Linked DNA regions of Homo sapiens: all the other regions are reported to be linked to region 3. Evidence: microRNA targets listed by miRTarBase, many of them from high-throughput screens and not tested one by one. Region 3 holds a microRNA gene; each other region holds the end of a gene's coding sequence.
What was found. Region 3 holds the annotated microRNA hsa-miR-3922-3p (UCUGGCCUUGACUUGACUCUUU, at 1,653-1,674, shown strand). A microRNA usually pairs through its seed, bases 2 to 8, with sites in the 3' UTR of a target mRNA and lowers its output. Matches are read on the target gene's strand: a 7mer-m8 pairs with bases 2 to 8, a 7mer-A1 pairs with bases 2 to 7 and ends in A, and an 8mer does both.

Region 1 (3,103 bases), not on the chromosome of region 3:
GGTTGAGTTTACAGGTGTGTGTCACCGCACCCACTTTAGCTGATTAAATAAAAGGGTGTGTGAAACCACTTTCTGCCTCTTAGTGTGAAGAGGGATAGTACTCTAGTTTGGGCAAATCTTCAAAAATCACTATTTGAAATTTGAAAATCGTCCATTTGCAGCTAATGATTAAGTTTAACTTGGGATACTCAAGTTACTTTTCATTTTGGGCACATTTCATCTCAAAGATGTGGTCCCATATTTTGTCCATTTTTCTTTGTGGGAGGCAATGGCAATTCATATCGGCCTCTCATAAAACAACCAAGACCGGGATCCAGGCATGATACTTGCTGAAGAGGCTTCCCTTAGGCTAATCTGACACCTCATTGCAGAAACCACCAGTCACCAGCTCCACTGACCACCTGCCATCCAGCTGGCTGGAGCCGAGTGCTCTGCAGACTCAGAAGTCCAAGGCGTGGCTCCCAGGGGCCCTCACACCATAACCCCTCAGTGGACAGCACCACTGCAGAGGAAACCTCAGTGTGGACCATGGCAGGGCCCTGCTTGAGCTGTCTCTGTTGTGGATTGAGTCCCAGCTCCAAAAGGACTCACACATTGCCTCCCCTCCCTCCATTTCCTGACACATAGGTGGCTATTCTGCAGTTAACCTTTTATTGTCCCTCCCCTTGTATCTTAGCAGCTAGGAAATGAAGTAGGTTGGTATGTTTTAGTTGTGTGTGCATATGAGAGTAACAGTGTCAGATATTAAGGTTCATGGGTTTTAGAAATGTGTATAATCAAGTCCTCACAGCCAAAAGTTTTAGTGTAAACTATCAGTTCCAGGAGAAAAAGGAGAAAGATAACTAAGAATGAAGAGAAGAAAGTGTCCAGGAATTCAGTGTGACTATCAGAAACCACTAAAAATGAATGCAGTGCTGGGGAGAACTGCAGACTGGCAGAGCGAGGCCAGATGGCCTGTCACCCCACGCCTTAGTGAACACCAGGAGCCAACAGACTGCCCAGAGCCAGGGCCTTGGTACCACACCCACACCACAGGCTCACACAGGTAGGAGGCAGGCAGGTTCAATCTTGCTGCCACATACTAATGACCACAGGCGGCCTGAGGTCTTTGAGGTTGTTTCTTCTAACATTCTGCAGGAGGGAGTTCATTTTTCAATACTGAATGGGCTGCTGTAAACAGGTTATCTCCTGGGACCACTACAGCTTAAGGACAAAGCGTGGGGATGGCACAAGTGAAGGGAGGGTGTCTCTCCTGCCTCCTCACCTAAGATGAAGCCTCCATCAGCTCACCCACACTTGTTTTTCTCTTCTCCATGAACTTGCAGGGGCATGTACCATTAGTAAGGAAAATAAAACCTTTTAAATATGTTTACTGAAAGCATCTTTCTTGCACAAGGCTTAAAGTACTGTGCATTTGTGAGCATATCGTGCTTGATAATGAACACGCACACACATTCAGCTCATTTACAGACAAACCATCCACAAGTTGGATTTTCTACATTTCAAAATGGAATGACCATAGCGGAGGATGTCAGGTTCTAAGCCCTGTCTTGATAAAGTTTGAGAGATTGTAACACGCTTTTACTTTCCTCTTTAGGTTTTAAGCATTATGTGCTGACTGAAGCTAGAAATAAAAACAGCTTTGCTTTCAGCCAATTTCTGCTTTACTGTGTCACTGAGACATGTTGTTTGAGACCCCTCATCATTAATGGCCAATGATCCAAGAGTGGAAAAATGGTCTGAGTCATAATTATAAACAGGTTATGATCAAGCTGAACGTCTGACCTTAGAATTAAATCAGGCCAGAGAAAAGAGAAATCATGCTTTGCTCTGTCTTCTACTGCAGGGTTGATGTTTACAATGTCCCTCTGCCCCTTTCTCCCATATTTGGGTGCTCTTCCCCATGCTCCTATGGCATCCTGCATGTGCATGATTCTATCAGCACTAATCTTACTGCCTGCAATTGTTGGTTTAAACATCTGCCTCCCCAGAAGACTTGAGGGCAGAAAACTTTTTTTTTTTTTTTTTTGACACGGAGTCTCGCTCTGTTGACCAGGTTGAAGTGCAATGGTGTGATCTTGGCTCACTGCAACCTCTGCCTCCTGGGTTCAAGCGTCTACTGCCTCAGCCTCCTGAGTAGCTGGGATTACAAGTATGCGCCACCACGCCTGGCTAATTTTTATATTTTCAGTAGAGAAAGGGTTTCACCATGTTGGCCAGGCTGGTCTCAAACGCCTGACCTCAGGTGATCCACCCACCTTGGCCTCCCAAAGTGCTGGGATTACAGGCATGAGCCACCATGTCTGGCCCAGAAAGCATTTTGATAAAACTCTGGTTCCCAGCACTCAAACCTGGTGCCTCAAACACAGTAGGTGCACTGCAAATGTGTGCTAAGTGAAGGTAAGACATGCTTACTTTAAATAATTCACAAGACAGAAGACCGCACTTAAAAAAATCTACAAGGAAACACCAATTTAAAGAAAAGAAAAATCAGTAAGTATCTGTGAGAATAATGGAGCAAAAGAAGTCCTGAAAGAGTTCTGCATCTTGGTGGTCATATTTATTGGAGAGCTTGAGAAAAATGAAAATACCATTTAGCTTAAGAAGTTGTGAGTTATCTGCAAATCAACTCATTTCAGGAGTGGAAGAATCCCCGGAATTATTTCTTAATATCAAAATGTATGCAGGTTTCTCTTATGAATGTTTTGTACTTTTAGAGAGGCCACTGTACAAAGTCTCCCGTTTTCCATACAGGACAAATTCTTTGTTTCAGCCAACTCTCAGTGGAGGGGCAACCAGGACAACGCCATCTCCCCGGACAAAGAGCATTGGAATATTCCGTTTCGTTGACTAGAAGAGAAAAAAAAACAGAACATATTTGTACAACTGTGTATTACTGCTTATTGTTTGTGACAGAAATGTTAAAAAATGGATTCATCATGACACAAAAAAATTGGATTAAAAAACCTGATCACTTCCCTTGGTAGCACCAAGAACCAATCCATCAACTGCTTCCTTTCGACAATTGTGGCAGAGACTGGAGCTACCCATTAAAACTCACTCTTCTCCTCCTGGGCACACAGCTGGACTATGTTTCTTATTC
Region 2 (3,103 bases), not on the chromosome of region 3:
GCCACCAGCGCTGCCACACGGAACAGCGGCCGTACCGATGTGGCGTGTGCGGCCGAGGCTTCCTGCGCTCCTGGTACCTGCGGCAGCACCGCGTGGTGCACACTGGCGAGCGGGCCTTCAAGTGCGGCGTGTGCGCCAAGCGCTTCGCGCAGTCGTCCAGCCTGGCAGAGCACCGGCGGCTGCACGCTGTGGCCCGGCCCCAGCGCTGCAGCGCCTGTGGCAAGACCTTCCGCTACCGCTCCAACCTGCTGGAGCACCAGCGGCTGCACCTGGGCGAGCGCGCCTACCGCTGTGAGCACTGCGGCAAGGGCTTCTTCTACCTGAGCTCCGTGCTGCGCCACCAGCGCGCCCATGAGCCGCCGCGGCCCGAGCTCCGCTGCCCCGCCTGCCTCAAGGCCTTCAAGGATCCCGGCTACTTCCGTAAGCACCTGGCTGCCCACCAGGGCGGCCGGCCCTTCCGCTGCTCCTCCTGCGGCGAGGGCTTCGCCAACACCTACGGCCTCAAGAAACACCGCCTGGCGCACAAGGCCGAGAACCTCGGGGGGCCTGGAGCAGGGGCGGGCACCTTGGCCGGGAAGGATGCCTGACCGAGGGGTTCCCATCCCACTCCCATCAAAAGCCCCCTTCTGGACTCCCACCTCCCAGGACTGATCAGACTCTTCCCCCCTCCTCGCTGTTGCCCCATCCTTCAGAACTTCACACGGACTGGCGACCTTCAGGGCGCACGCCCGACAGGCTCAAGACTGAATCACTCCCATCCTCGACCTCTCTGCCCTCCCCTCATCCCATCAGACACTGAACCCTATCCTCCGTCCAACCCTCGTTTGTGACCCGCATCAGCCCCCGCCCCAGCAGCACTCTGCCCCCAGTAAGTTTTGGCGGAGATGGGTCTGAACCGCCCCTCCCCCTCCTTTGGAATCTGGCTGGACAGTGGAGTATGAGCAGAGTTGGGAGGGCACAAGGGAGTGCTGGGTGCTTTTTGGGGTGGGGGGGTGGGGGGCGGGGTGGCAGACGCGGCTTGTACAGAGCGGAGAATAATAAATCTTACCATGAGGGCCGCTGGAGTCCATCCTTGCATCCCACCCAGGGAGAGTGGGGATCACATGGTGGCAAAGCACAAAGTTAAAACTTGTTTCCTCTGCAGTTTTGATGCCGGGCGCCTCTGTCTCTCACTCACTCTCATTCAACAGGGACTTACTGAGGATTTGCTGTATTCCCAGCGTTAGTCTGAGCTGGGCAAATGGAGATGGACAAGACAGGTAAGTGTCTGCTCTCAGGAACTGACTTAACATGCCCCGACTCTTCCCCTTCCGGATGCTTTCAGCCTTTGTTCACTCCACCACCACTTCCGGAGACCTCCTGCCTGCCAGGCCCTGAGCTGGGCACTGGGGAAACAGATGAATTGGACGTGCCCCTTGGCCTCAAGTAACACAAAAGAGAACTCCCATCCGGCTGCCGTGGCTGCCTCACAACCATGTGCAGACTGATGGTCATGATACAGCTCCCTCTTAGCACTTGTCCTCCAGGGTAATGATTGGGAGATTCAAAAGCCCGTTCACAGCTCTCATGTTGGCTCTGGGAACAGCAAGATGTATGCCTGGCAATGTGTGTTTAGTTATCTCATTTGTTAGAAGAAGGGCCTGGGGTCCTGAAGAACAAAGGTGCTCCAGGGACATCTCAAAAATCCACAGAATTTGGACTCCAGGCCAGGCATGGTGGTTCACGCCTGTAATCCCAGCACTTTGGGAGGCCGAGGCGGGCAGATCACTTGAGGTCAGGCGTTTGAGACCAGCCTGGCCAAAGTGGTGAAACCCCATCTCTACTAAGAATACAAAACTTAGCTGGACATGGTGGTGGGCATCTGTAATCCCAGCTACTCAGGAGGCTGAGGCAGGAGAATCACTTGAACTCAGGAGGCAGAGATTGCAGTGAGCTGAGATCGCACCACTGCATCCAGCCTGGGTGACAGAGTGAGACTCCATCTCAACAAATAAATAATTTGGACTTCAGTCCCAGAGTACTTCAGTACAGAAACTTGAAGATGAGGCCAGGTGCAGTGGCTCATGCCTGTAATCCCAGTACTTTGGGAGCCCAAGGCGAGCAGATCACCTGAGGTCAGGAGTTCGAGACCAGTCTGGCCAACATGGTGAACCATCCTTTCTACTAAAAGTACAAAAATTAGCTGGGCGTGATGGCAGGTGCCTGTAATCCCAGCTACTCGGGAGGCTGAGGCAGGAGAATCACTTGAACCCAGGAGGTGGAGGTTGCAGTGAGCTGAGATTGCGCCACTGCACTCCGGCCTAGGCGACAAGAGCGAGATTCCATCTCAAAAAAAAAAAAAAAAAAAAAAAAGGAAAAAAAGAAACTTGAAGATGAAACTAGGTAAGAGCGCTGCTTGGGTGAGTCCTGTGTGACCCATGGGAGAGCAGCTACCCTGTGTGGCTCCATGTTCTAATGCTGAAGACCCAGCATGAGACAGACGTTGTGCCAGTGCCCCCAGGGTTCAGGGTTCAGCAGTAACATGGAAATGGAGCCTCACAGTGTAAGGGACTTGGAAGTATCACTAGGGCTTGAGGGAGCACAGAGGAGTCACCTGTCAGAGTGGAAGGGGGGCTAGAAAAGCTTCTTGGGGAGAAGGTGATCCCTGAACGATGACATAAACCAACTGGAGTTTTCCAGGTAAAGAAGTGGCAAAGAGGCCGGGCACGGTGGCTCATGCCTGTAATCCTAGCACTTTGGGAGGCCGAGGCAGGTGGATCACGAGGTCAGGAGCTCCAGACCATCCTGGCTAACACGGTGAAACCCTGTCTCTACTAAAAATACAAAAAATCAGCCGGGTGTGGTGGTGGGAGCAGGTGGCAGGCGCCTGTAGTCCCAGCTACACGGGAGGCTGAGGCAGGAGAATGGCATGAACCCAGAAGGCGGAGCTTGCAGTGAGCCGAGATCATGCCACTGCACTCCATCCTGGGCGACAGAGCAAGGCTCTGTCTCAAAAAAATAAATAAATAAGAAAAAAAAAAAAAAAAAGAAGTGGCAAAGATTTCCAGGCGGAGAGTTTAGTGTGTTGAACTAAACCCTGCTATTCTGGAGCATTTAAGACAGA
Region 3 (3,103 bases):
GATGCCTCACCCTAGCTGGCCCGTCCCTTGGCTATTAGGTGCCGCATGACCCTTGTAAGTACCTACACCCAGGCCCCTGGCCTCGTTGGCCCCATCTGGCACAGTTTCTCCCCCTCCTCTTCTCCAGATGGCCTGCACGTGCGCTGTCTATGTGCGCACCTGTTCCTCATGTCTAGCTGATCCAGCATCCCCAGACTCTTCCAAGATACAAATCCCCTGGGGTGCTCATCAAGCTTGAAGCTTCCCAGGCCCCTTTGTAGGAGAATCTGATTCAGAAGGGCTGGGAATATATGTTTTTTAAATAAGTACCTCGGATGACTCTTATCAGGAAAGTTTAGAAGACCTTGGACTGGGGTGACTGTATTTCAAAACGGTTTAGTTTCCTGTCTTTTGGGAAAGGCACTTCCATTCATTCATTTATTCATTCAGCCCTGAATTTAGGCCCCTTTTAGGAACCGAGGATATTGTGATAGACAAGACAGTCCAAGTCCTTTTGCTCATGAAACTTAGGGTCTCGTGGTGGCAACAGACAACAGCCAATAAAGCATTTAAGATAAAAAGACAGGAGAGAATCAATGCCTTGAAGAAGCATATGGCAGGCGGGGCGCAGTGGCTCATGCCTGTAATCCCAGCACTTTGGGAGACTGAGGCGGGCAGATCACTTGAAGCCAGGAGTTCAAGACCAGCCTGGCCAACATGGTGAAACCCTGTGTACTTAAAAATGCCAAAAATTAGCTGGACATGGTGGCACACGCCTGTAATCCCAGCTACTTGGGAGGCTGAGGCACAAGAATTGCTCGAACATGGGAGGTGGGGGTTGCAGTGAGCCAATATCGCACCACTTTACTCCAGCCTGGGTGAGAGAACGAGACCCTGTCTTAAAAAAAAAAAAGAATATAGCAAAGAATGGGAGGAACAGGAGAGAGAGGAAGTGAGGCCATGGGAGACAGTGTGTCCAGGGAAGCTCTCTCTGGGGACCTGATGATGCGGTCAGAGGGCAGAGTAAAGAAGAGAACAGTTGTTGGTGTTGGGAGAGGGACTCCAGGCTGACAGAGCAGTGAGTGCAAAGGCCCTGAGGCTCATGCTTGGTTTTTTGGAGAAAGAGCAAGATGACCAGTATGGTGGAGGAGGGGCAGAGGCAGGCGGGGCTATATCATGGGGGGCCTCTGGGCCGTGGAAAGACTTTGGATTTTGTTCTAAGATGGTGGCAGGTCTTTGGAGCAGGAAGGCTGTTATGATCTGATTTACGTTTCTAGAAGATTATTCTGGCCGCTGGTAGAGAATAGAGTAGGGAGGCCAGGGTGGCAGCAGGGATACCAGTTAAGAGGTTTTTGTCATAGCCCAAGGGGAAGGCGATGATGGCTTGTACCAGGGCGGTGAGGACAGAGACATGCTGATGGGTGGGGCATAGCAGACAGAAAAGGGAATTTAAGAAAATTCCTCACTGTTTGGTCACAGCTAGGGGCATGATGGTGGCATCCACTGTGATGGTGAACATTGTGGGAGGGAAATTTTAGCTGTGGAAGCCATGAGTTCTCTTTATCAATGTTTAACATATTCCATTCATAAGCACCCTCAAATTGAACTTAAAGGAAGAGTCAAGTCAAGGCCAGAGGTCCCACAGCAGGGCTGGAAAGCACACCTGTGGGACTTCTGGCCTTGACTTGACTCTTTCCAGATATCTGAGTCAGACGTTTTCAAAGCATGCACCATGACCCACGGGTGTGTTGTAAAATGGATTTAATGAGTTGTGACTAGTAGTTCATAAAAGAACAATAGAAAATGTTAGTTTGTCACACATAGTAAGGATAGTACTTTTAAAATAAAACTTGTCTCGGTTTTCTATATATATTTGTATGTAAATCACATGCAAAAAGAGAAAGGGATGAGGCCAGGAATCAGGAGATCTTCATTTTAGCTGCAACTCGGCCTATAGCCAGCAGTGTGTCCTTGGACAGATCACCTTCTATCCTGCACGTCCATTTCTTTACCTGCAAAATGGGGTTAGGGATGAGGTGGTTTAATCTTTTAATACCTGGCACCTCCTCCCCTCCCCTCCCCTCTTCTCCCCTCCTCTCCCCTCCCATCTCCTCTCCTCCCTTCCCCTTCTCTCCCTTACTCTCCCTTTCTCTCTTCTCCCTTCCCGTCTCTCATGCTCTCAGTGGGTGGGCAGCATACCCCACTGGCCAGGAGGATTATGTTTGAGGTTTGTGTCTTAATCTGTTCAGGGTGCTACAACAAAATACCATAAACTGGGTGGCTTATACACAACAGAAATTTATTCCTCACAGTTCTGGAGGCTGGGAAGTCCAAGACCAAAGCATTGGCAGATTTGGTGTCTGGTGAGGCCCTGCTTTCTGGTTCATAGACAGTCCCTTCTTGCTATGTCCTCACATGGTGGAGGGGGTAAGTGGTCTTTTTTGGGACGTCTTTTATAAGGGCACTAATTCCATTTAAGAGGGCTCTACCCCCATGACCAAATCACCTTCCAAAGTCCCCACCCTCTAAAATGATTATCTTGGGGGTTAATATTTTAACATGAATTTTAGTGGGGACACAAACATCCAGATTATAGCACTTTGCGTCCTGCCATTTCTCTTGCTCAGTCAGAATCAGTTTTGAGGATACTTTCCCTAACCACGTAGATTCATTCTCTTTCCTTCTGTGAAAGTCATTGGACTAGGTGGTCTCTAAAGGGCCCTTTTTGTCTTAGATGTGCCTGATGGTGCACTAACCTGTCAGGTTGACAACTGATTTGTACTTGGACAGGGATCTTATACTTTCGGAAGTAGGCATGCTGTCTGGGCATGTTTCTGCAGATGGGCCAGAATTCTCTAAAAGAGGGAATGGGTTGGCTGCTGGGGCCATTGGTTTGGGGGACTCCATTTGGTGACCCAGTTCTTCTCCTGGCCGGTAAATATTTTAATGTATACACTATATTCTTCAAAGCTGAGTATTAGAGTCCCCACTGGAAGGCTTCCATGTCAGTAAATCTCACGGCTCTTGGATGAAGCTGCATCTTTTCCCAAGCTATACCAAGCACATTCACGTAATTCTTAGATTTACTCCCTTGACCTTCATATGCCAAGTTTAATTCACTTTA
Region 4 (3,103 bases), not on the chromosome of region 3:
GGTTCTTTTTGCTGCTCAACATGTCCCACCTTTGGTGAGTGACAGCCCTTCAGACTGGCTCCTGAGTTCCTTTGACTTGGCCACAGTAGTCTTGGAGGACTCTTTGCTTCCTGGCACAAAATATCCTGGACACATTTTGCACATTTCTTGCCCCAGACCTGGAATCAGCTGTTTTCACAAAAGTCCCTAGTTCTTAGTCAGAAATGGCACTTATAGAGACCACAGTCTGTATACTAGTGCTGCTCAGTGTTACTGGGGTGTCATTATATTTAGACCTTTTCAGGGGACTTAACTAGGGAAATACATATTTTTTAGAAAGAGAAAAATCATGACTTTATTCTGATATTTCCAATTCATGTGAAAGACTACAGGGTGTTTACTTGAGTTTATATTTGTTATCTTTTTTCATTTACACTAAAAATCTTGGTCCCCAATGACATTACATCACTACTTATTTGCTTTAGTATATAATTCAAAAAATATAAGGTAGAATCTCAAAAATTTAAACGGTCTATTTTATCAAAATAAAAATGCCAGTGTTATTACTAACAATGTGACTACTGTATGAAGTTGAAGATTTTGTTGAGTTCAGTTGAAGGTGGGGGCTGGGAACTGTGATGAGGAGAGAGAGGAGGAGCAGACACACTAAGGACTACATGGGAAAGCCAATGTGGAAAGGCTGGGAAACAGCAGCCAGGGGCAGGAGGAAAGCTGGGAGAGTAAAGGGACTCTGGAGGCCAAGAGAGGAGTTGTGTGAGAGATGGACAGCAAGGTTCAAGATCATAAAGCTGCCAAACTTCCAAATTTGAAAACTTACTGCAACACCAGTAAAACTACCATCTGTGCATGTTTTTCTTCTGGGGCCAGCCAAATTAAATCTAATGTTCACTTAGTTTGGGAAAAAAAATTTACTGAGACAGGGGAAACTAATCCCAGCAGGTGAAGATTTGGGAGGCAGAGGCGATAGAATCACTTGAGGCCAGGAGTTGGAGAGCAGCCTGACCAACATGGTAAAGCTCCGACTCTACAAAAAATACAAATATTAGCCAGATATGGTGGTGGGTGCCTGTAATCCCAGCTATTCAGGAGGCTGAGACATGAGAATTGTTTGAATCCAGGAGGCAGAGGTTGCAGTGAGCTGAGTTCATGCCACTGCACTTCAGCCTGGGAAACAGCCAGATTCTGTCTCAAAAAAAGAAAGAAAGAAAGAAAAAGAAAAGCACCTAAGAGAATCCAGCCATTTCAGATATGGCAATGTGGTCAGGCGCGGTGGCTCATGCCTGTAATCCCAGCACTTTGGGAGGCCGAGGCAGGCAGATCACTTGAGGTCAGGAGTTCGAGACCAGTCTGGCCAACATGATGAAACCCCGTCCCTACTAAAAGTACAAAAATGAGCTGGGCGTGGTGGTGCGTACCTGTAATCCTAGCTACTGGGGAAGCTGAGGCATGAGAATGGCTTGAACCTGGGAGGCGGAGGTTGCAGTGAGCTGAGATCATGCCACTGCACTCCAACTTGGGCAACAGAATGAGACTGCATCTCAAAAAAAAAAAAAAAAAAAACAAAAGAAAACAAGAACAGATATGACAATGTGTCACAAGCCTTTCTATTAAGCTACTGTAGGAATGACACATGGAGAGTTAAATACAAAGCAGGTCTGGAGAGAAGCCAGATATAACCCAATTAAACATGGAAATTTAGTGCATAAAAAGGTGGCATCTCAAAAGTGTAAGGGCTTTGCTTTATAAATTGAGTAACCCACGCAGTGAAATGCACAGGCCTTAAGACTACAACTACATGAGCTCTGACAAATCTCTACACCTGCGTCACCGCCGCTGCTCTTGACACAGCACATTCCCATCAGCTAGGACATTTCTGTGTCTCCTCCTCAGTTGATCCCTGCCACCCACCTTCCCTCAGAGGCAACTGCCACTCTGACTGGGAATTTCAGTAAGTGCTACTAGGATATATGTAAAATAAGACAAAATTGGATCCATGTGCTAGGATAAATTCCAAATGGCTGATTTACATGTAAAAAAAGAAACTATACAAACTAGAAGGCAATCTCATCTTTTAATACATTCCTCACCCCCAACCTACACTGTCCCCCTCAGTGGCCCTTATTGCAGCACATCCTGGCTCAGGGCCTTTGCATGTGCTGTTGCCTCCAGCTGCAAGCCCTTACTCAGCCACCCCTGTTGCTCCTGCTCACCCCTTGACGGAGCACGACCTGGGCAGTGTGGCCCTCAATTCAAATCACACATCCCACCCCCTGCTGGATTTCCCACACAGCAGTTAACTTGCAGCATACTACATATATATTTTCCTTATCTTGTAAACTCTGTCTCCCTGCCCTAGAACTCAACTGCTGGAAGACAGGGTTTTCTGTTTCTTTTGTTCAGTGTGGACTCCCCAGCGCCTAGAGGAGGTGCTCAATTACTTTTTGCTGAGAATGAAAGTGATGAAGGGGTTTTAGGGGGTGCTTTAGCGGGATGAAAGGACAGGGTCCAGGAGCTGAGTGGGGCAGCAGAACAGCACATGAGGGGACTGCAGGTGCGGGTGGGGACGACTGCCGAGGAATCCTGGCGCTGCTTTCTTCCAAATGTCCTGGGGGAGGTGAGGTGTTGGGGTGAACAGTGTCAAGTTCTCGGCTTCCGTTTGAACCCTCTCTTCAGCTGCACAGCTTCTGCAGGGCCCCCTGGGCCTGAACCCAGCGCAGCCGCCACTGGGGCAGGGACAGGCCCTGGCAGAGCTCCTCAGAGAGGGCGGCCTGGCCTGGCTGCTCCCACCTGGGGAATGGCATGGCGTCAACGAGGAAAGGACTGACCCTCCAGACCCTCCCTGCAAAACCATGGCCTGCTCCTTCTCATCAGGCCCCCAGCTTGAGTCCTGACTTTTCTGTTTCCCATCCGCGGCACGTTCCCCTCTCACCAGTCCCCCACGATCCCCTGCAGCTCAGGGATTCGCTCCAGTGCCTGTTTCAGTAGCTTCTCCAGCCTCTTCAGAGCCTGCCCCAGGTTCTCTTTCTGCTGTTTTTCCTGGGATGCCTGGATCTGCAGCAGCTCTGAGGGTGAGAAAGCCAGGAGGCAGCTTTGAGTCCTCTGG

Region 1: the mRNA of LSM3 is a reported target of hsa-miR-3922-3p. Seed matches in the 3' UTR shown: 7mer-A1 at 2,303-2,309.
Region 2: the mRNA of ZNF865 is a reported target of hsa-miR-3922-3p. The part of its 3' UTR that is shown has no 7-base or 8-base seed match.
Region 4: miRTarBase lists HAUS5 as a target of hsa-miR-3922-3p. Seed matches in the 3' UTR shown: 7mer-A1 at 1,347-1,353.

The regions. Positions count from the first base shown.
Region 1 is chr3:14,197,783-14,200,885 of GRCh38, reverse strand. It overlaps LSM3 (LSM3 homolog, U6 small nuclear RNA and mRNA degradation associated), which reads right to left. Exons shown (of 4, transcript NM_014463.3): 4 at 1-2,850. The coding sequence ends at 2,770. Among named protein-coding and RNA genes, the nearest start is that of LSM3, 21 kb to the right of the region's middle.
Region 2 is chr19:55,616,212-55,619,314 of GRCh38, forward strand. ZNF865 (zinc finger protein 865) reads left to right here. Exons shown (of 2, transcript NM_001195605.2): 2 at 1-1,058. The coding sequence ends at 587. Among named protein-coding and RNA genes, the nearest start is that of ZNF784, 6.8 kb to the right of the region's middle.
Region 3 is chr12:104,590,042-104,593,144 of GRCh38, forward strand. MIR3922 (microRNA 3922) reads left to right here and starts at 1,592; the gene lies at 1,592-1,675. All of the region lies in intron 1 of CHST11 (carbohydrate sulfotransferase 11), which reads left to right.
Region 4 is chr19:35,622,560-35,625,662 of GRCh38, reverse strand. It overlaps HAUS5 (HAUS augmin like complex subunit 5), which reads right to left. Exons shown (of 19, transcript NM_015302.2): 18 at 2,930-3,062; 19 at 308-2,787. The coding sequence ends at 2,670. Among named protein-coding and RNA genes, the nearest start is that of RBM42, 4.9 kb to the left of the region's middle.